Regions from separate parts of the Homo sapiens genome. Here regions 2, 3 and 4 are each linked to region 1. The links come from fine-mapping of genetic effects on gene expression. A gene starts in region 1. Each other region holds a variant in brackets. All regions are shown on one strand. Distances are from middle to middle.

Region 1 (5,155 bases):
TGCAATCAATGATTTCTAAAAAGTAAAGACTTCATTGCTTTACTGTCTTTTGTAAAAACAAACAAACAAAAAACAACAAACAAACAAAAAACACCTCGTGGTAGTTCCCTTAGAGTCCTTCCTGGAAGCCAATTCAAGGAAGCCTGGACGGAGGCGTGACACTTGGACTGGGAAGGTGGTGTAATCTGTTGCGAATCACAGCAGGTTCTGAAGTGCTGGAGAACCCACGTGTGCAGGGGCTGGAGAACTTTTCCACCGTCTCCCAGAGGAAATGCCTCATTTTAAAATAGGGGGCTGGCTGGAGCAAGGGGTGGGGGTGAAGGGTGGGCGGTAAAAAAAGGCAGAGGCGAAGCTTTCAAACCGTTCACGCATGTCTACCTGTGCTTATTTTCCCTCTATTTCGCCTCCGATCAACTTTATTATTATTATTATTATTATTTTCCTTCTATAGGAGGACTTAAGCAACCAGGATGCTGAACATCTCATAGGCTCAGGCTGGAACAAAGAAAATCGAGTTCCTAATACTGTATCTCACCCGTTGGAGGGATCACGTGTCCTGCTTTCGCTGGAATGCACTCTTCTCGCCCACGCTATAAAAATCTCTATTGTGCTTAGAAATTTCGCCTAGGTTAGAATATGCTCACAAAAAATTGCTTTTCATCCACCAGGAGAGCCACATTTCGACATATACAGATACAAATCTATTTACCTGCTGACCCAGTTACCACTGCAGGTAAATTCGATGTGTTGAAAGAGTATTGGGAAAGTAATTGAAAAGAGCAGGGGGAGGACCCCTGTGTCTTACCGATCCCCACCCCCATCGCTTTTTTTTTTTTTTTTTTTTTTGTAATTCCTTTTGAAGGAGAACTTCGAAAGGAACGTGGGAGTCGCAGATGGTTCCTTTCTGAAGCCGATTCCTGGGAGTTGTGAAAGTGACCCCGTCTCTTCTCTGCCTCGAGCTGTGCCCTCTCGCCCAACCCGCTCGCTTTATGACTTGATGGGGAAGAGACAGCCAGAGAAGAGCCGGAGTAGAGGGCGGAGGCGGGTCCTTTATTCAGCCCTGATGGCCGAGAAGTAGTGTAAGGAAGCAATCTTTCAGCCATCTCCGTTATTATGAAGTCACACTATTTTAAAAGGCAATCTATACAGTCCCCCAACCCCCGCCCCCATTCTTGACTCTGCAAACAGTAAGATTAGAGACCACTGGTAGCCAATCTAATAGTCCACGAGCCAGGGTGCCATGATTACCTTAATGCTAATGTGCTTCCCTCCCTCTTTCCACGTCGAATCCGAAACACGTCCTGCATCCTTAATAACTCGGAGAGGAGGACGCAAGATCCTCAAGGGGACCCAGCGCTGGATTGGGAATAGGCAGGTTCACCAGCTTCTCGTGCCACACAAAGGAGATGTGTGGGCAGGAGTTGTCTAGCTGACAGGGAGGGAGGCAAGGTTCTCCCTGACTCCCAGGGAACACGCTCCCCCACTTCTTTCCGTCCTCCAGTCTTTCATGTTCCTTCGTCCCCTCCATCCCCCCAAACCCCACCCTTTCCCTTCAATCCCAATCACATAAAAATCTTCTAATTGTATTTTTTCAAACAGACATCGAGACATTGATACAACACCTTCCAAGATAAAGAGACAAGTGCGTCCTGCCACAAGTGTGTGTGAGTGTGTGTGTGTGTGTGTCACGATCAAACACGCGCTTCATCCCTCAGACACCTCTGGGAAAAAAGCTGACTGGAGATACCCAAGATAATAACGAGGAGCTAAACCTAATTTCAGCGGAACCAATGGTCCCAGCACCAGCGCCCAACATTTACCTTTCCTTTTCGCAGTATGTAACCCTTTAAGGTCTCTTGCCAGCTCAAGCTACTCGGTGCTCCCATGCACCCGCCCAGTTAGCACCCCATTTCCAAATGCTCTGCAACCTACCACATCTTCGCCGCCTCCCTCGGCCACCGCACAAGCAGCTCCCCGCGAGCGCCGAAGCCTCCCGCCCTGCCACCCCCGCCCCCGGCCGGCCTCTGGGGTCCCACACCTCGCGCGCCTACGGTCGCCGCGGCCGGGCCCCCGCAGCACCCTCCGCCACGGAGCGAGCGTGCCTTACTCACATCGCCGGCGGGAGAAACTGCCCATGAGGTTTCGGAGAGCGTAGTCGTGCAGCTGCCAAGGGTTATTCCTTAAGTGTTCAGGGGTCCGCAGTGGAGTGGGCGCCAGGGTCTTCGGAGGAGAAGAGGAGGGAAGGAGTAGAAGGTAGGAAGAACAGGAGATAGAGGGGAATCCAGGAAGGTGCCACGTTAGACCATGATGCCAGTGCCCTTCAGGTGGACGGCTGGAGAGGTTCCCGCGGGAAGCGGCTGAGGGGAAGCCCGAAGCGCCGGCGGGGGAGGCAGGAGCGCGTCCACTCCCCAGCCTCAGCCTGCCCAGCGCGCCGCGCTAGCGACCGCAGCAGCAGCGGCGGCGGCGGCGGCGGTGGCGGAGGCGCAGCTCCCTCCCCGCCCCCAGAAGGCTCCACAGACAATAAATCCTGGGCGGAGAAGAGACAAGCAGGAAAGGCGAATCCTGCACCCAACTCCGTAACAACCCCTGCCCGTTGCCGCGCCTGTGCAGGGCGAGGATCCCCAGGGGCCAGGGCGCAGCGGGCGTCTCGGAGGGGCTGAGCGCTCCGCAACTGCAGGAGGCGGTGGCGGTGGCCCGAGTGGGCGGCTGCAGGTCCCGCCGGCGAGAACCCGCTGCACTGGGGCTGGGTGTCCGTGGCTTCAAGCCCGGTGTTCACCCGGAGTAGGGTCCTCCTCGGTGCAGTGGCTCGGCGCACAGGTGCCAGGATTGGCAGGCGAGGAGGCGCCGCTCATGGCTCTTGGCTGTGTCTCACCGCTCTCCCCGCCCCCTCTCTTTTTTCCCACCCCCTTTTCCGACGACACCAGCTGCAGCTGCTTCAAAGTGTGAAAAATGTCAAGGAGATTTTCCAATGATAGGAGGGGGTAACCATGTTCACAACCCTCGGTCTCTTTTTGAGATCCTCGCCTGTCCCTCTGACCTCTACTCCGGCTCCCCCAAATTATGAGAAGAAAAATCCCAGTCCTGCACAGGATTGAAACGCTAGCCTTCTCCCGGCTCCGTCACGATAGGCTGCTTTTCGAGAACGGGACGAGAGGCCGAGCTCTCTGGGTTCCTCTCGCCTCCGTGGTGTTCGAGGCAGGTGGCACGAATCTCAGCGCGGGGCGGAGCGCGGCTGCCGGCTCCTCCCGCTCGCGGGCCAGCCCCGGGCGCTCGGGCAGCGCGGCGCGGCTTTCTGCAGCGCGGCCGCCTGAGCGGCAGAAGCGGCTCCCGGCCTGTGCGCCTGCCTGAGCGCCCCTGCACCCGCACTAGCTCAGTGACGCTGAGCTCGTGGCTCCTCAGGCTGCTGCTCCTGCTATCTCAGCAAAGAGGCGGCCGGGAGCGCCTCCTCGGGGTTTCCTCCCCCGCCCGCCTTGCCTGCTGCAGGTTGTTGGCTGCCAAGGAGAAAAGTCTCCGCTTGTGCGTCAGGTCGCTTCACATCAGTCATGGCAGCGAACCTTGTGCCTGCTCTTAAGTCCTCTCCTCATTCTGGGGTTGCGGCTGCTGCCCTGGGAGTGCACAAAAAGGGAAGGGTTTTCCCAACTTCCCTTCATATATTCACCGCCCCTCCTCCTGCCATGAACATTCTCTCTGACACACACACACACACACACACACACACACACACACACACACACTCTCTCTCTCTCTCTCATATGCTCCCTTACGTAAAGGCACACACACTTTCTTCTTATACGCTTCTCTAAAGTCCCAGAAGCAGCAAGACATATCAATGAAGCTAGTACTATATTTACACTTTTTTTTTTTTTTTTTGAAACGGAGTTTCGCTCTTGTTGACCAGGCTGGAGTACAATGGCGCGATCTCGGCTCACTGCAACCTCTTCCTCCCCGGTTCAAGCGATCTTCCTGCCTCAGCCTCCCGAGTAGCTGGGATTACAGGCGCGTGCCACCACGCCCGGATGATTTTTTTTGTATTTTTAGTAGAGACGGGGGTTTCACCATGTTGCCCAGGCTGGTCTCGAATTCCTGACCTCAGGTGATCCACCTGTCTCGGCCTCCCAAAATGCTGGGATTATAGACGTGAGCCACCGTTCCCAGCCTATATTTACACTTTTATTCTCTACACACATCTAATGAATTACATCTTTAAAAAAGGATATATTATGCTGGTATTCTTTTGTGGAATATAGGCTATGTGGTTTTTGTTTCTTCATTACAAGAGAGAAAGAATCTTGTCTTTAGTTCTCTAACCTCGAACACAGTCAAGACTGTGCACAGCATTCAAATGCCACTCTGGGGGTGTGTGTAAGCTCACAGTTTGCCAAAAGAAAACACACCTGATTGTATTCTTAGATTTGGAATGCTAAAGTCTTCAAGGTCAAAAATTATGTTTCCTGGCTGCTAGAAATTGTCTAGGAAGAGACTTGAGAGACTGGCACCTAATGTGCGGAGGACCTAGAGAGGAATTATTGCCCACTTTATCTGGGCCATGAAGGTGGGCTGACTTTTAAGGACAACTTGCCAGTGTTTCATATCATTTGCATATAGAAAGGAAAAGGAGTATATTTTGAAAAGCCAGATCGTTTTTTATATTGTTACAAAACACCAAAAGAAAGGGCTCTGAAAATGGCAAGGAAATGGAATAAAATTGTTAAAAGAATTTTTTTTGAATTGACTACTGTTGTGCTCTGTTTTTTTTTCACCTATAGTGTTGTCCTTTTAAACATTTTGCCACATCTCAATGTCTCTGCTGGATGAAGTGACATGAAATATTTTAGGTGCTGATTAAAAATGTATTGACAAAATAACCTGGCGCAACAATTACACAATTATAGCGGTCCTTTATGGGTTTCCAGTTCTTTTTAATACAGTCAACACAGTACTTTCACATATATTCTTTCATTTAATCCTTTCTTAAATCTAGGTGGTGGATAATCTAATCCACACTTACAGGAAGGGCACAAAGGCTCATCTCATAAGGGTGTCCAGTTGCCCTGCACTTGAGCCCAGAATTTCTTATTTTAACTTCAGGCTTCATTGTTTTGTATCAAAATATTTGACAAAAATTATTCTGTTTAAAAACACAGCCAGTTATGAG
Region 2 (5,155 bases), 42 kb before region 1:
CTTACATTCACGCTAGGCTGTAGCCACTTTCTAGTAATAAAACCCAGTATATTAAAGCATACAGCAGAATGTCCAGTAACCTAATTGTCTTTAATTCATCAGCATTCAAGTATTTTCAAGTTATTGGGATACTAAGTCTAGCGAAATGAAATAGAAAGTTATATAAAATATAATTATTATTGATTGCAAGAAAGTATGAGTGATGATTTTTAAATTTCATATCAGATCAAGTTTTGATATAGTAGCATTAATTCTTAAGTCTGAAAAATATATAGTATACTATTTTATTGCAGAAAACACTGGTTTGGTATATTATTTTAATTTCAGTTTGCTTAAATACATTTATTCACTTTTAATGCAATATAAGTCAATGATATTAGGGTAGCATAGGAATTATTCTAAGACATCATTAAATGTGGGTGGCATAGAAAAGCAAAGGGAAAATCGTGAAGGAAATTACAGTCGATCCTCAATATGCATAGCTTACAAATTTATGTAGCTTCCTACTGGCAAGAATTAATTTGTACCTCAAAATCAATGCTTGTGACACTTCCGTGGTCATTTGTGGACATGTGCATGCAGAAAATGGTAAAATATTTGAGTCATTCGATGTGCACATTTCCAGCTGAGTTTGGCTAAGGTGATGCTTTGCTTTGTTGTGTCATCATGTTATAAACAAATGTCCTTTTTGAGATCTTTAGTGCCACATTGTTGCTTCCTGTGCTTTTTTTATTGGAGATTCCACTGTTGAAAACAGCCATCAAACATAGTGCTGAAGTACTGTCTAGTGTTGCTAAGAGCAAAAAGGGTTCCATGTGCCTTATGGAGACAATGTGTGTGTTAGGTAAGCTTGATTCAGGCATGAGTTATAGCATTGTTGGCCATGAGTTCGACATTAATTAATCAGCAAAATGTATGAAGTGAAGTGTCTTTAAACAGAAACACATAAAACAAGATTAGGTTTTGATCAGTTAATGAACATGTTGTGGCTAAAGGCTTGCAGGAAACTAAACTTGTATTTCCTCTAAGAGCAATGACTCGGTACTCACTAATTCAGTATTTCCTGTAGCAACATTTCAGAATACAACTATCACTTCATGAAACACAACTTGATAGAACACGAATTAGAATTTATTGTACTGACCTATACTATCTCACATATTAAAAAAATTTATATAAAACCAAAATAAGGTAAATAAGGTAAAAGGCAAATGACAACCTAGGAAAAATACTTATAATACTTAGGAAAACAAAGGTTTAATATTGACGATATATGAAAAAAAGATAAAGGTGGGAAAATAAAGTATATTAAAGTGGTGTGACTTTAACTTAGCTTTTGATAAATTATAGTTAAAATCATTGGTCAAAAGTTTCAAAAGTATTAGTGGGAAACTTAAAGTTTAAAAGAGCTGTTGACAAAAGTGTTTTGAGAATGAAAACACAATGTGTTTACTTGCCTTTTGTTGAATTCAATTTAGCAAATACTATGTATATTTATAAAAATACTTTAATTAAATTTATATCTAGTTTGTATCTTGTCATCATAAAGCTGCATTTTGCCTAAGTGTGTTTAATAAGAAAAGCAATGGTCTTTCCTACAATAGATTTCATTAAGAAATCAAGGACTGTTGGTATGTAATTCTCAGTCTGCAGATGTTTATTATTGAAAATTATATTTGTTAAAATATTTGGTGTAGAAAAGTATTTTTTTCTTATGTTTGTGAAATATTTTTGCCCTGGAGATGAATATACTTACCAATCTTGTATGTGTTTTCTTGTTACATTAAGCATATTTTTAAAAGTGCTCTCTCTTAAAAATGTCCTATGTAAAAAATTAAATATATCACTAATTTAATTACATTAAAATACAACAAAAATATTTATTTTTCCACAACAGCAAACATTATAATGAACAAAAGACAAAGAAGCTATTTACAAAGACACTATAAAGGCCAATAAGCATGTTTAAAAAATCAAATTACTAGTAATCATAGACATAGAAAACAACAAGAAGTCATCAATTTCAGGCTAAGGGGAGAAAAAGGAAGTGGGAGACACAGACTAAAGGACATGTGCCTGAACCCAATGACCAATCTTGTCTCACTGAAAATGGTCATGCAATTATGATACTTCCTGACATGGTACACAGCA[C/A]CATAGATAAAATATTCTTGCCAAAGAAAAACTGATTTTGAATCTCATTGAGCTTTTAGATCTAACCATCAGTTCACAGGAGAAAAGGAGGGAAAAAGGAACAGGTTGAACACTACAGTGAAGGATTAGTCAAATTTAGGGTATTGAATATTTTTTAGAAAAAAAGATCCTGTTTCTTCAACAAATAAATTGCAAGAAAGAAAGAGACAAGAACCCATTATAGAGTTTGGTTCTTATCTGTCAGAGATATACACTGAAACACTTGTTGGTGAAATTATATGGTATTATATCAGGATTTTTCTTTAAAATATTACAGTAAGCAAAATAAATACCAACATAGGTGAAACAAGAGTAATAAAATGGTGATCACTATTGAAGATAGCTGATTGGACATAGTGGGTCCATTTTAACATTCTTTCTACTTTTTGGTTATAAATATAAAAATTGTGAAAAATTTTCTGGAATACAGCTTATAAAATGCCGGTTGTATGAGTCATCTCATTTCTAGGCATTATTCTATGTAAACAATGGGCAGGAATGTTCAATGTTTTATTGTTGCATTGTATAATTAAAAGAAACAATCTAAATATCAGAAAATACAGATAAAGTAGATATATATTACTCATTAAAAATTGTAACTTAGAAGAGCAGTTCTCACATTGGCTAAAACAGGGCTTTAAACTTAAGCAGACAGGTTCAAATAGCATCCATTCTATGTACCAGCTGAGCACCATCACATATATTAAACTCATTTAAGCATTAACTTCTTAATCCATAAGATGGTAATTATAATAGTACACATATTAACAAGATATCTTTAGAGTTCAGTGTCATCAGTATTCATTTCTGATAAACGGTGGTCATTTTTATTTTTTTCTTTCTTCCTTGCACTTTTACTTTATTTCCTCTCTCTATGTATATATATGAAAAAAATTAAGATAAACTAATAAATTTATTTCATCTCAATTTCATACAATAAAACTTGTCATCAGCTGAGATTAGAATAATATATAGATTAACATATTAAATCATTTCCTACCACTGTTCTGCCTAATTAATCACCTTTATGAATACGTAGACATGAGTCAGATTTAAATAACTGGAGTATATCATAGTTTCTGATGAAAGATCAAAAGCAATATTCTAAGAACTGTAATAAACAAATTAGCCCAAGGTCAAATTGTGGAGTCCATAGTCTCCCTCTGTTCTTTCTCTTTGCTTTTACAGACTAGTTTTTCTCCCATCCAAACTGCAAAGCTGGGTGCTTTCAAGCTGTCTCTGCTCATATTTCAAATATCCCATTATCTGGACATTTTTTTTCCATGGAGAAATGCCAATTTTATAAAATCATATCATGTTAGGTAATATGAACATATTTCCTGTTAAATATATCTTTTTCTGTATAAAATTATATATATATAATTTTATATATATGTGTGTGTGTGTGTATATATATATATATATATATATATATATATATAGAGAGAGAGAGAGAGAGAGAGAGAGAGAGAGAGAGAGAGAGAGAGAGAGAGAGACAGACAGAGCAACTTATAGGAGATGCCAGTTCTTACTTTAAAGTTACTTAGGTAAAATATTTGGTAAAATACAGGATTTTTAAGGTCAGAGTTCTTACATCTCTTGTCCACTTCTGTATGTCAATCACTCAGCAAAATGTACAGCCTGTTTAAGCACTTAACAAATATAACTGAATTTGTTAAAGAAGCTGTAAAGAAATTATATTAGGAACTGAATATGGCAAGGTGACTGGTCTGTGGTACTTTTTTGTTAAGTGATTTTAAGGTGTTATGGGACACTGACTGGCTGAGTTAGGCTCTGCCTGCACTGGCTGGCAGCATGATCTTCTCATGTGACTACCTCTCAGCCAGCCAGTGGGCAACTACAGCAGACAATTCTAAATACCCTTGCAGAAGTCATAGGTGACTGGAGATGATGCCATAGTCTTGGGGCACAGGTCCATGCTAATAGGCTTGCAGAGCCTTGGAATATAAAGGAGGGCTGTGGCAGAGGTGGTGGCCGAAAGAGAAAATGGCCAAGAAAAGATGCCTAAAAAAGCCCTTTCAGATTAGCCTTGAAGACTAAAAGAAATGAAGAAAAACTTGGCAGAAATTGGTAAATGACAAATTTTTTGTAGATATGCTATGCTAAATAATCACCGACACTTGTATATTATTGAAAATTAGCTGGACAACAATGGAATGTTAGTTTGAGATTTGGGAAATGAAAAACCCAAAGTGAGGTAAGTCCAAGATATCATCCAACATGAGAAAAGAACGTTACTACCTCCCACGTCAGCTATTTGCTTCAAAAGATAAACGTATTTCAGAAGAAACAGAAGATCGTGCTCAAAACCAGGAAATATGTCCCTTTGAAATGGACTCCAACAGTAATGACAACTCCAAGGTTCATTTGGGAAGGGTTTATACAAGTTCCTCTTCAGGAAACTGACCTTCTAGGATAAGGAATGTCATTCCAAATAGAAGAATCAATACCTGCTATTCCTCAGGACAAACTAAAAATTGATATTGACTATTCTAGTTGAACATAATCTACTGACAATGTCTTTGATAGAACTGTACCTAATCTAATCATTTGGCAGGAAAATCTTTTCAATGGGAAAAAAATTAGATTTGCTGGGCTTCTAGTAAACACACACACACTAGAAAATGTAGAACAAAATGTTTTTCAATGAAATAAGGACAAAATTAACCCATCATCAAGGCTGATTCACCTAGGAAGACTTATAAATCAAAAGTAGTCATTTTTGATCCTAAATATGAACAAGCTAAAGCTAAGCTTAGAGATGCATAAGGCAGAAAAAGTGACAGTAGGAACCAATCAAAATGTATATCAAGGTATAAAGGGAAGAAAAATGAAAATTAAAAAAACTTTCTAAAAATATTGGGAGGGGCCTGTCATTTTTAGCAATGCTTACAATTTTAATTTTGTGTTATATCACTCCTTTATAATAAAATAAAATGAGAAA
Region 3 (5,155 bases), 26 kb after region 1:
TGACCTAGTACATCTATCAAATTTTGCTAGGTTATGATGTCTTACAAAAATGATGCTTTATTTCTTGTTCACATTACATTGTCCATACAGTTTTGCTCCATGTCTTCTTCCTTCTGGAACCCAGGTTGAAGGAGTAGCCCTGTATGAGACTTGGGGGCCTTTGTGGGAGAGGGAAAAAGAAAACGTCAGAACCTCATGATGAATTGGCATATATCACTTCAACTCACATTTCATTGGGTAAAGCAAATTTCATGGCCATTCCTGATGTCATGACTGCAGGAAAGTCAAATTATCCCATAAGCAAAATCAAATCCTCTCACAATAATTGGAAACAGTGATACGCTCTCTCAATCACCTCTAACAGACATCCATTTTTTCTCTCCTTCCTTACTCCTAATGCATCTAAGTCATGGAGCCAGGATTTGAAGATTGGTCTGCATACACCTTTCTAACCAGTGGTCCATACACCTCTCTAACCAGTGGTCTAATTGAATATCAAAACATACAGAATAAATTACTTTAAATATATTTTTAAATAAATATTTAAGTAATGTAACCAATTTAGGAATCAGTGGTATTGTTAAAAATACATCTATGTCAGTTGTTCACAGCTTAAGGTAAATACTACCATAGCAGTGGTTGTAAACATTTTGATCTCAAGATTACCTTTATTTATTTATTTCTATTTTTTGAGACAGGGTCTCACCCTGTCACCCAGACTGGAGTGCAGTGGCATGATCACAGCTCATTGCAGCCTCAATCTCCTGGGCTTAAGTGATCCTCCTGCCTCAGCCTCCTGAGTAGCTGGCACTACAGGCATGAGTCACTACCCTCAGCTAATTTTTCTATTTTATTTTTTTTGTAGATGTAGTGTCTCTATATGTTGCCAAGGCTTCTGGGCTCAAGCTGTCCTTTCTTCTTGGCCTCCCTAAGTGCTGGGATTATAGGAGTGAGTCACTGCACCCAGCCTCAAGGCCCCTTTACACTCTTAAAAACCATTCAGGATCATAAAGAGATTTAAAAATATGTGTTATACCTGTCTTTATTTACCATATTAGAAATTAAAACTGGAAACAAATTTAAATTGTTAATTCATTTCAAATAACATTAATAAGCCTGTTACATGTTAACATAAATAGTATATTTTTGTTAAAAATAATGATATATTTCAAATTTTAAAATTCATTAAAAAGAGGGGCACTGCTTTATATTATTGTAAATCTCTTTAATGTCTAACTTAATAGAAGACAGCTAGGTTATTTTATCTGTTATATCCATGCTGTATATTTTTTGGTTGAAGTGTATAAACAAAGTCATTACATAAATATGTGAATAGAAAAAGAATGAGTTTTTTTGTTTGTTTGTTTTGTTTTAGTTTTTTTTTTTTTTTGAGACGGAGTTTTGCTCTTGTTGCCCAGGCTGGAGTGCAATGGCACGATCTCGGCTCACTGCAATCTCCTCCTCCCGGGTTCAAGCAATTCTCCTGCCTCAGCCTCCTGAGTAGCTGGGACTACAGGTATGCACCACCACGCCCCGCTAGTTTTTGTATATTTAGTAGAAAAGGGGTTTCACCATGTTGGTCAGGCTGGTATCAATCTCCTGACCTCAAGTGATCTGCCCACCTCGGCCTCCCAAAGTGCTGGGAATACAAGCATGAGCCACCATGCTGGGCAAAGAATGAATATTTTAAGATAATTTTGTATGTTCTTCCTTGATAGTACTCTAAAACTTGACATGTGGTACTTTATAAGAGGTAGTTGCAATATACAATCAAACCATATCACTGGATTTTCTGTATTCTGTTACAACAAAATCCATTGGCTTCTCTTGAATTTTGAATGAATCTTTTATTCATGTATAATTTTGTACTGTCATGCATGTTCATTTAAAAATATTAGTTTACTCATTTATACAGATCTTCCAATGTTGACATATTTCATTATGCAATAAACATCATATTTATTAATATTGCCACTGATCTCATCAGGAAAGTCTGTCTTGGGAAGCTGTCAAGCTCACAGAAGCAGATGTAAGTTTTCCAAAACTCTTTCACTTGAAAGTTCAAATTTTATTACTGGCAACAATACTGTCAGTTGTCCTTGA[G/A]ATGTCAGGCTGTCTTTGTTCATTTTTGAGAAAATGTGTGCCAAATATCCAAGTATGAATAGCTATAGTTTGCCTATTTGTCATTCTTTCAAATTAAAATGGTGCTCTATGAAAAGAGATTATTTCAGCTTGCAATTTACACAATCACATAAGTGCTTTTCTTGATACAAATACGTTTGGTTATGTAGTGAAGTGTTTTGGCATTTTTCTCATTTTTCTCCCACAGGATACATTGAAAAGAAGTATATTCAAAGGTTGACATTTAATAAAATTAATAATTTTTATTTTTTCATCAAAACCATTCTTAAGTGAAACTGATATTCTATTATTATTAGTATGACTATTATGTAATTTTATTTTTAAAATGAAAGTGTGTGGTAAAATGCAATGGCTAACAGTATAGCTCAGGGCCACCACCTTGATTCTTGCCTTAAAGCCAGCAATTTTTCTGACCATTGCTCTTGCACCATTAGTGAAAATTTCAATGTAATGAATAAAGCAAACAATGTCTTGATATTATTATGAAAATAGTTTTGGCTTTTCACATTACTTGTAAAGACCTTAAGGACATTCAAGGGTCTTAACGTCTGAGAACTACTGCTCTTCAGAAACCTTTTAAAGTCAGCCAATTTAACCTGTACATTCAATGCAAAGGTTAAAAAAAAAATCTTTGTAACCGCCTTCTCTCCTTGGCATTGTGATAGGTGCTAAGGCTAGAAAGATGTAGAATGCTTCTGCTCTCAAGGAGCAGGAACATGCTAGAGTCATTCTAGCCCTGAGAGTAGAATTTTGAGCCTTCTAATGTCAGTGCTCTGCTAGACAAGCAGAGGGAAATGAGTAGAACACAGGAAGACAGGGAAACACGTCATTCTGTCTGCAGATTCAGGCAACGACATCCAGAGTTGAAAAGAGGTTACCCAGGTGAATAAACAGGAGATGGGATAGTGCTCTAGGCCAAAGAGTAACCCTGAAATAAGGTATGGAGACAAAACATGTGTACAGACTTCAGTATTTCAAAAAATGAAGTTAGAAAAAAATGGGTTTTAGGTCACTCAGAGCTTTGTGTGCCCAGCTAAGTTGTTACAACTTTAAAATGCTGAGATTATGTCAGCAGGACTAGGGGATGAATTAGGCATAGACGGAATGTTAGCAGGTAGCAATAAGGAGTGGAGTGGGAAAAGGGAAATTTGGAGAGTTTAATTTGGAAGCTGTTGAATCTGTGTTTATGACATGCCAAATGAATTGGTACTGCTAGAATATAAATATATGCACCTGAAGCTTAAAGGTGACATCATAGGTATGATGGATTTACATTGTTAGTGTCTAAACGGCAATTACAATTGTGAGACTAGATGAAATAGTGAAAAGACTGTGGAGAGAAAGGAGCAGGGGACCAAGAGTAGATGTCTCAGTAAACGAGAGTTAGCAGGGGAAAAGGAACCTGTGGACGAAGTTGCAAATGAAAAGGCAGAAAGATGAGGGCAAAACTGTTATTGGATGATATTAACACTTAAACCAGTGAATTTAGGGTAACCAGATTGCTCTCTGTAAGGTGGGTGGGTCTCATCCAATCAACTGAAAGCCTGAATACGACAAAAAACCCAGCCTTCCCAAGGAAGAGAAAATTCTTGAGCAAACTGCTTTCAGATTCCACCTGCACCATCAGGTTTCCCGGGTCTCAAGCCTACTGGCCCACATTTCGGATCAGATGTGAACTTGCCAGGCATATATCTATTCTCCACACACCCCTTGGCTCTCTCTGTCCTATTGGTTCTATTTCTCTGGAGAAACCTGAGTAATTCAGAAACTGTGAAAGCAAATTATCATGAAAATAAATTTGTAGAGCAGAGAGTAATCAAGTAAGTTCCTCAGAATATCTCTTCTATTGCATGCTAATGGGTGCTAAAAACAAAGAAAGAAAGAAAGAGTTTTGCTGTAATTATATCTGGGGAATTTCTTGGTGCCATTTTAAATGCACTCAGCACAATCACGTAAAGTGTAAAATGCGAACTTTTAAAATATTTTCAAATCTAATATTTCTAATTCACCCTCACTTTTCTGGGTAGTTAGGGAGTTGCTTTTTATTTTTAAAGATCATTTTAAATTTACAAACTACCTAGTGGTAATAATTTTTAGTTTAAATTAGTTTAAATTCTTATAGGTACATGCTCAGTTTTTCACAGTTCTGCAAACTTCTGCTTTTCCCGCAAATGGCATTTGGATTTCTATAGCAGATTACTGTGTTCTTGTCTTAGAAAGAGAGCCCTGTATCTATGGGTGTTCCTTTTGGACTCTGTAGCGATTACTCTCTTGTCTACTTGGTCACTGCTCTTTCAGCTAAAATTTACTATCCAAGTTGGCAGCTGGTGAGCATATGATGTTTTTTCTGAGTTTGGCCAGGGCCTGTTGTCTTCCCTGATAACTCGACCCTATCTTAGTCCTCACCAGCACTTGAGGTCTGGATGTACCTTAACTGAACCCTAATCTACAACTGCAGAGTTACTTTTCCCAGTCACAGCAACTCGTAGGGTAAGCTTGCTAGCCAGCAGCTTTGCGTGCCTCTCGAAGGCCACTTGGAACTTCTGGCCACCTGCTAAACCCACAGGGCAAGCTGGAATTGACACTGGACGGGTAACTCTTGTTAGCCTCTGTCCAAACACATGATGCCACTGACTTGACTTTGTTTAAACACATTAATATAGTTGCCATTGGTTATGCAGAATACTTTTGCAGGAGGTTCTCCCTACTAAAACCAATGACAGAATGGCCTTTCTGCCCCTGAATTTCCCCTCACCTACATAGCAAACAGCCCTACTTTAGGCTGGAAATGAAAGAACAGGCCACACACATCCCGTCGCTTAATTCCTCCTCTTCAGGATCTCTTGTCCTTCCAAGTATCTATCTGAAATCAAAGAGGCGAAATTTCCACTTCCCCAGGATTTGACCAGATTTCCTTTCATCCATAGAATACTCCTTCCAGAGAAAATATTCCCTCCATTTTCCATTCCCTGAAGCTAGACTAATGGAAATATTGTAGTGAGCATGATTTTTA
Region 4 (5,155 bases), 72 kb before region 1:
TTGAATAAGTTAGAGTGATTTAATTTAAAATGTAAAATGACTACATTTTTCTCTCTGATATGGTACCCATGTAAAAATAGCATTAGCATAGTATTTTTATTAAAAGAAAATTTAGTTATAACATTTCATGATTTAAACTTTATAAAATTATCATAATAGCAATAGGCCTTGTAAACTATTATTGCTTCCTCAAAGGTTTTCAAATTACAAAAACCTAAAATTGTATTCAACCACATGAAATAATATTAAGCATCAGTTAAATGGTTTACTGTTATGAATTATTTTAATGCTACCATGCTACCAACCATGAAGCTCTAACAGCTAGCTTAAATTATAACTTCCAGATCTTTATTCAACTTAAAACTTTTTACTATTATTAAAACGAGGTAACTAATAAATGATATTTGACTACTTGAATAATTTTAAGGAAAAGATACAGGCATATGTCACCATACAGTTTTAAATTAACTTTTAAAATTTTTATATGTAGACTGGCTATCAAGCAATGCTATGTACAAATGTCTTGATGATTATATATTTTAAAATTTGTTTAAGTTCTAAAAAAAAAGTGTGCTTATAGAAAATATAGCTACAAAATTATTAATTTTTCAGCTTCTAGTTCTCTTTTGCCCGAAAAGCAAGTTGATTATTTTGGTTAAAGGTGGTAATTAATATAAAAAATTGAGATAATGCTAGCTATAATGCTTCCATAGGAATAAAAATATGCATACAAATTATAAGTAGCTTGTAATTTTAATAAGCTGTAAAGGTTATTAATATGATAAATTTAGTAATATATATATGAATGCTGATTAATTTATTTCTTAAAGCTAATGTTTAGAGTTTTCATTTTACCCTTTATTTCCCTCTACTCATATATATTTGTATATGTCTAAATAAATAAACAGAGTATTAAGGATTAATTGAAAGATTTATAATAAAAAGAAAATAGAAGACAAACTTAAAGTACTGCCCATGTAAAAGGTCTGAGATAGGTAATTTCAGTTTGTCTAGGTTTCTAGTGCTGATGGAGAATGAATAAATATATGAAATGTATGAGAAATATGTAAGTGGAATAAATATATGCATTGTCTTCAAAATTGTTTTGAGTACTGTTGTTCCAGAGTGAGTGAATTTATTCCTAATGTAAAAAGTTATAAAATATTACTATAACTTGTTACATGGAAAAAATAAAGGAATAAATTCAGAATCTGGGATGTCTTGTCATAAAATGTCCAAGTTCTCTATCCAGGTAAAAGAATTTCCTTGTATCACCAAAAATATTTTATTGACCCTCTGAACTTTTTTGTTTCCTGAATCATTTTGAAAGAAAATTTCATTATTTTTGAAAGGTAATTTCCTAATAAATATCTTAATTGTGTTTATGAAATATTGCCAATAATGACTTTGTAGATATTATGACTTATGTTAGTATTTTACTGCATTAACAACCTTTATTGATTTTTTCTTTTCCAAATTCAAGTAGCAACTAAAAATAATAAAACTTTTAAGATTTCATTTAAACCTGAATTACCTTTGCTCCTCCATATTACAAGTGAAAAGACAATGGAACTATTTGTGATTCATTTCTCAAATTTTAATTAACTCAAAATTACAGGTACTTTATTTACCAAAGTTAGAATTAAAAAAAAATGACAAAAGAGAAATTCAGTCCTCCTATATTAAATAAAATAAATATAACAAAATATTTATTTATATTAACATAATAAATTAAAATATCTATGTTTAATGATTGTGTATTTCTCAGAAACACCCTTGTGTTCTCTAAAAAGAACAATGCATAATGAGTCTAAAAAGTGACTTTGTTCCTGAGTTATTAATTCATTATTCTTACTAATCAGGAACAATCATAGTGCTCACTATTATACAAGTCAAAAAGTATCTATTACACAAGTCAAAAAGTTTACACTGTTTATAACATGTTCTTCCTCCCAGGACAATCATGGATTACATC[C/T]TCAAGAATTAATTGTGTGTTATATGTAAATAGAGGATTTCAATTTCTACCATTATAACATTCTGAGAGATTTCATCTTGTGGAAAAGACATCAGAAAAAAAATCTCCCTTAAGACAGTGAAATGGATGTTATCTGGTACCGTTAAAAACTAACAACAGTAAAATGCTAGAATGTTTTTCCTCAGACCTGTATCCTTCTGGAGACTTCAAGCTGAAGACATTTAGGAATCCTCCAGAAGTGGACAAACTTTGAGAGTATGATAAAGTTTTTGCCAAAGACCCTCAGATCAAGTAGACAATGGCAAGGAGTAAATATCTTGCACCTAATGCCAACAGAACAAGAACCAGATATCTAGAGTCACAGACAGTTATGGTTCAAACTGCACGTTTTTATTTTCCCAGCTATTTTCTTTCCTCTTTCCTGTTTTAAAGTTGTGGATTATTAACCGATTTTTTTTTTAGCTGGTAACTATGATTCTTGAAAGTTTCTATCCTTAATATTGGTTTTTGCATTTGTAGGTATTGATATAATTCAAATCCTGGCAGGAATTTAATTTCTTATGATTTAGCTAAAATATATAAGCAATCTAGCCATTGAGTTTGTTTCTACTCAGCTTCCTTTGATACCAGTTTATAAAAGTAAGTGACTTGGTTTCCTGGATATTTGATCTAACTCCTAAAGCATTAATTGAGGGCAAACAATGCCATGGGCCAGAGAGCCAGAAATCTAAAACCCCTTTAAAGATGTCCTTATACAGGAAGGCTCCTGTCTTCACAGAATCAACATTCAGAGTCCTTTCATAGAGCTTGTTTGGGTAGTAAAATTTTCACAAAAATAGAGTTTGCAGAAAAGCTAGAGAAGTACTGGTGTATAATTGTGAGGCTGATGTTTCACTTTTACAGAAGTGATTAGAAAACCATACCACTTAGGCTCATCTCTACATTTTTGCTTTAGGGGTAACTAATGATCTATATACTAAAAGTTTCATTATCTAATGCATGATAATTCTTGATGAGTCATGACAGAACAATACAATACAAAAACACCATTTGGTTATTGTGGCTGAAACAGATCATTGGGTAGCCTTTAATAACTCTTACTAAATTTGGGACACAAAAGCCCATTGGTTACTACCTATAATTTAGACAGGATCTGTTACTTAATAAACTGATACCTGTCATTAAATTAGTCTTTGATATTATCCAGAATCCTGTTTGGACCATCAGTTTTCCTCCTTTGACAAAAAAATAGAAAATTTTAGAAAGAGAAAACTGGGTTTCAGTTTGAGTTAAAAAACTTAGATACTAAAAGGAGTTTTGGATTAGATTAAATTTTTCAGCCCAAGCCTCTTTGTTCACACTTTGTTTCACTCTTTATACTGGAGGTCTGAAAATTGGGCAGATGGCTACCTGCTATAACAAAGTACAGTGCAAAGACTAGGAGGATAACAAGACAATACACCATAGAACTCACCCAAGAGGTTCATAAAATTCGTCAAGTGGTGATTCAAAACAGAGTTGCTTTAAATATAATAATAATCTTGAAGTGGAATATGTGTTGTCTTAGGTGGAGAACATTGTACTTTCATTTGAACAGATCTCTATGGTTCCAAAAAACAAAAATAATTTCATAAAACAAAGAAATAGTAAAATTAGATAATTTATTTAATGTACCCATATCTGGTTCTACAGATTCTTCAGATTAGGGGTGAGTGCTCTTGGCTTAATTGATATACTCTCGGTTCTTAACTTGCAAGCAGACTACAAACTCCAAGGATACTAATCCTCTATTTCATCCATTATAGGAATCAAATTGTGATCTCCAGTTTTAAGTGCTGCTCCACAGTCACTGTTCTGTCTCATTAAAAATGCAACAAATGATTTTCTAATGAAAAGAACAAGAATATATGCCACTTTCAGAAACTGGAATGACTACCATCAGAAATTCTACACTTGATCATGACGTATCAAACAGAAGTACAGATCTGAATTAATTATTCCCAGACAATAATAGTCTGTATTCAGGCACAGGGTTAGAAATGACCAAATGAATGATTAATATTTAGTACTAAAATGAATATAATTTTTGACATAGTGTTAAACGCTACTGAGAGCTGGATTACTTTCTTGTATTTAAATTAAGCAACATTGAGACAGTGCATACTTTCCCATCTTTATATTAAAATTGAGAACAAACAAAATAAACTTGGCTATTCTCTAAGAAATATTTGCTTCTGAAAGATAATTCTGTAAACTAACCCAAAATTTCTTTTCTTGACACTAACATATTGCTCATCAAGACTCACTTCATTGTGCCCTCCAATCCCACCCTTTCTCTCTCTTTGCAAAACTGGCCTTAAAATCTCAGGCGAGGCTCTTAAACCCTAAAAATGTGTCACCTTTCTATTCTGGACTAATACTAAGATTATCTCAAGGTGGCATTTTCTTTTACTGCACTAGGCTTAAGAAATTCAGCTTTGCTTCATCAAGTCTCTGCTTATCTTTAAAAAACATTCTTTGTCCTTTAGAAAATCAACAGTTGACATATTAAAATGATTCTGTGTAATTAAGTAAAATATATTAGTTACAGGGAGATGGATTACATAAGGTAAAGCTATTTAACAGAATAGATGCTTACAAATAGTCATGAAAGAAAAGAAAGGAAAAGAAGATTAACGTGTATTTCATAACCCTGAGGAATACTATTTGACTTTTAAATAAATTACCTCATTTAATTCCCCAAAAATCCAGTCAATTTTCCAAAATTTTAGGTAGAAATAGAACTGGTAAGATTAAATATCTTGCCAAAGCCTCCATGTTTAGTTGTGATAAGTGGGTTGTGGGATGTGATAAGAGATCAGGTCTTCTAACTAGCAGTCTTGTATTGCTACTCTTTTTTCCAACTCTGCAATGCTCAAATATTTATGTAGAATTAACCCCAAGACTTAGGACAAAATTATTTTTAATATGAATATGTAAAGACAATAATACTTTTTATGGAAAATATAAAAACAGTGTGAGACATTGACGTGAAACAAACTCAAAGAAGAATTAGAAAACCACCTAAATTTATTTAGAGCTATTAAAGACATTTATTCAGTAGTTTAAAACCTACCTCCTCAAAATGAAACAAATGCCACCCTAAATCCCCGCACTGAATCTAGGTGTTTAGTTAACCCA

Alleles and levels. Positions count from the first base shown, and alleles are read on the strand shown. Sizes are in standard deviations (SD) of each study's normalised expression.
With allele C in place of A in region 2, the expression in thyroid of the gene that starts at base 2,831 in region 1 is lower (moderate effect, 0.73 SD a copy in GTEx).
With allele A in place of G in region 3, the expression in tibial nerve of the gene that starts at base 2,831 in region 1 is higher (moderate effect, 0.47 SD a copy in GTEx).
With allele T in place of C in region 4, the expression in sigmoid colon of the gene that starts at base 2,831 in region 1 is lower (moderate effect, 0.43 SD a copy in GTEx).

Evidence for each region. PIP is the estimated chance that this variant, and not a neighbour inherited with it, causes the effect.
Region 2: its variant is the best candidate, but not a certain one, in a credible set for the expression of LRRC7 in thyroid (GTEx, PIP 0.59).
Region 3: its variant is the best candidate, but not a certain one, in a credible set for the expression of LRRC7 in tibial nerve (GTEx, PIP 0.53).
Region 4: its variant is the best candidate, but not a certain one, in a credible set for the expression of LRRC7 in sigmoid colon (GTEx, PIP 0.71).

The regions. Positions count from the first base shown.
Region 1 is chr1:69,565,598-69,570,752 of GRCh38, reverse strand. LRRC7 (leucine rich repeat containing 7) reads right to left here and starts at 2,831. Exons shown (of 27, transcript NM_001370785.2): 1 at 2,112-2,831. The coding sequence starts at 2,113. It overlaps LOC105378789 (a long non-coding RNA gene), which reads right to left. Exons shown (of 12, transcript XR_947488.3): 12 at 4,903-5,155. RefSeq lists a silencer at 3,178-3,407.
Region 2 is chr1:69,607,344-69,612,498 of GRCh38, reverse strand. The region is part of intron 1 of LRRC7 (leucine rich repeat containing 7); the gene reads right to left. It also overlaps the pseudogene SGO1P1. Among named protein-coding and RNA genes, the nearest start is that of LRRC7, 42 kb to the right of the region's middle. The variant C/A (reference allele first, on the strand shown) is at 2,152.
Region 3 is chr1:69,539,644-69,544,798 of GRCh38, reverse strand. LOC105378789 (a long non-coding RNA gene) reads right to left here. Exons shown (of 12, transcript XR_947488.3): 4 at 46-158. Among named protein-coding and RNA genes, the nearest start is that of LRRC7, 26 kb to the left of the region's middle. The variant G/A (reference allele first, on the strand shown) is at 2,104.
Region 4 is chr1:69,637,138-69,642,292 of GRCh38, reverse strand. All of the region lies in intron 1 of LRRC7 (leucine rich repeat containing 7), which reads right to left. Among named protein-coding and RNA genes, the nearest start is that of LRRC7, 72 kb to the right of the region's middle. The variant C/T (reference allele first, on the strand shown) is at 1,976.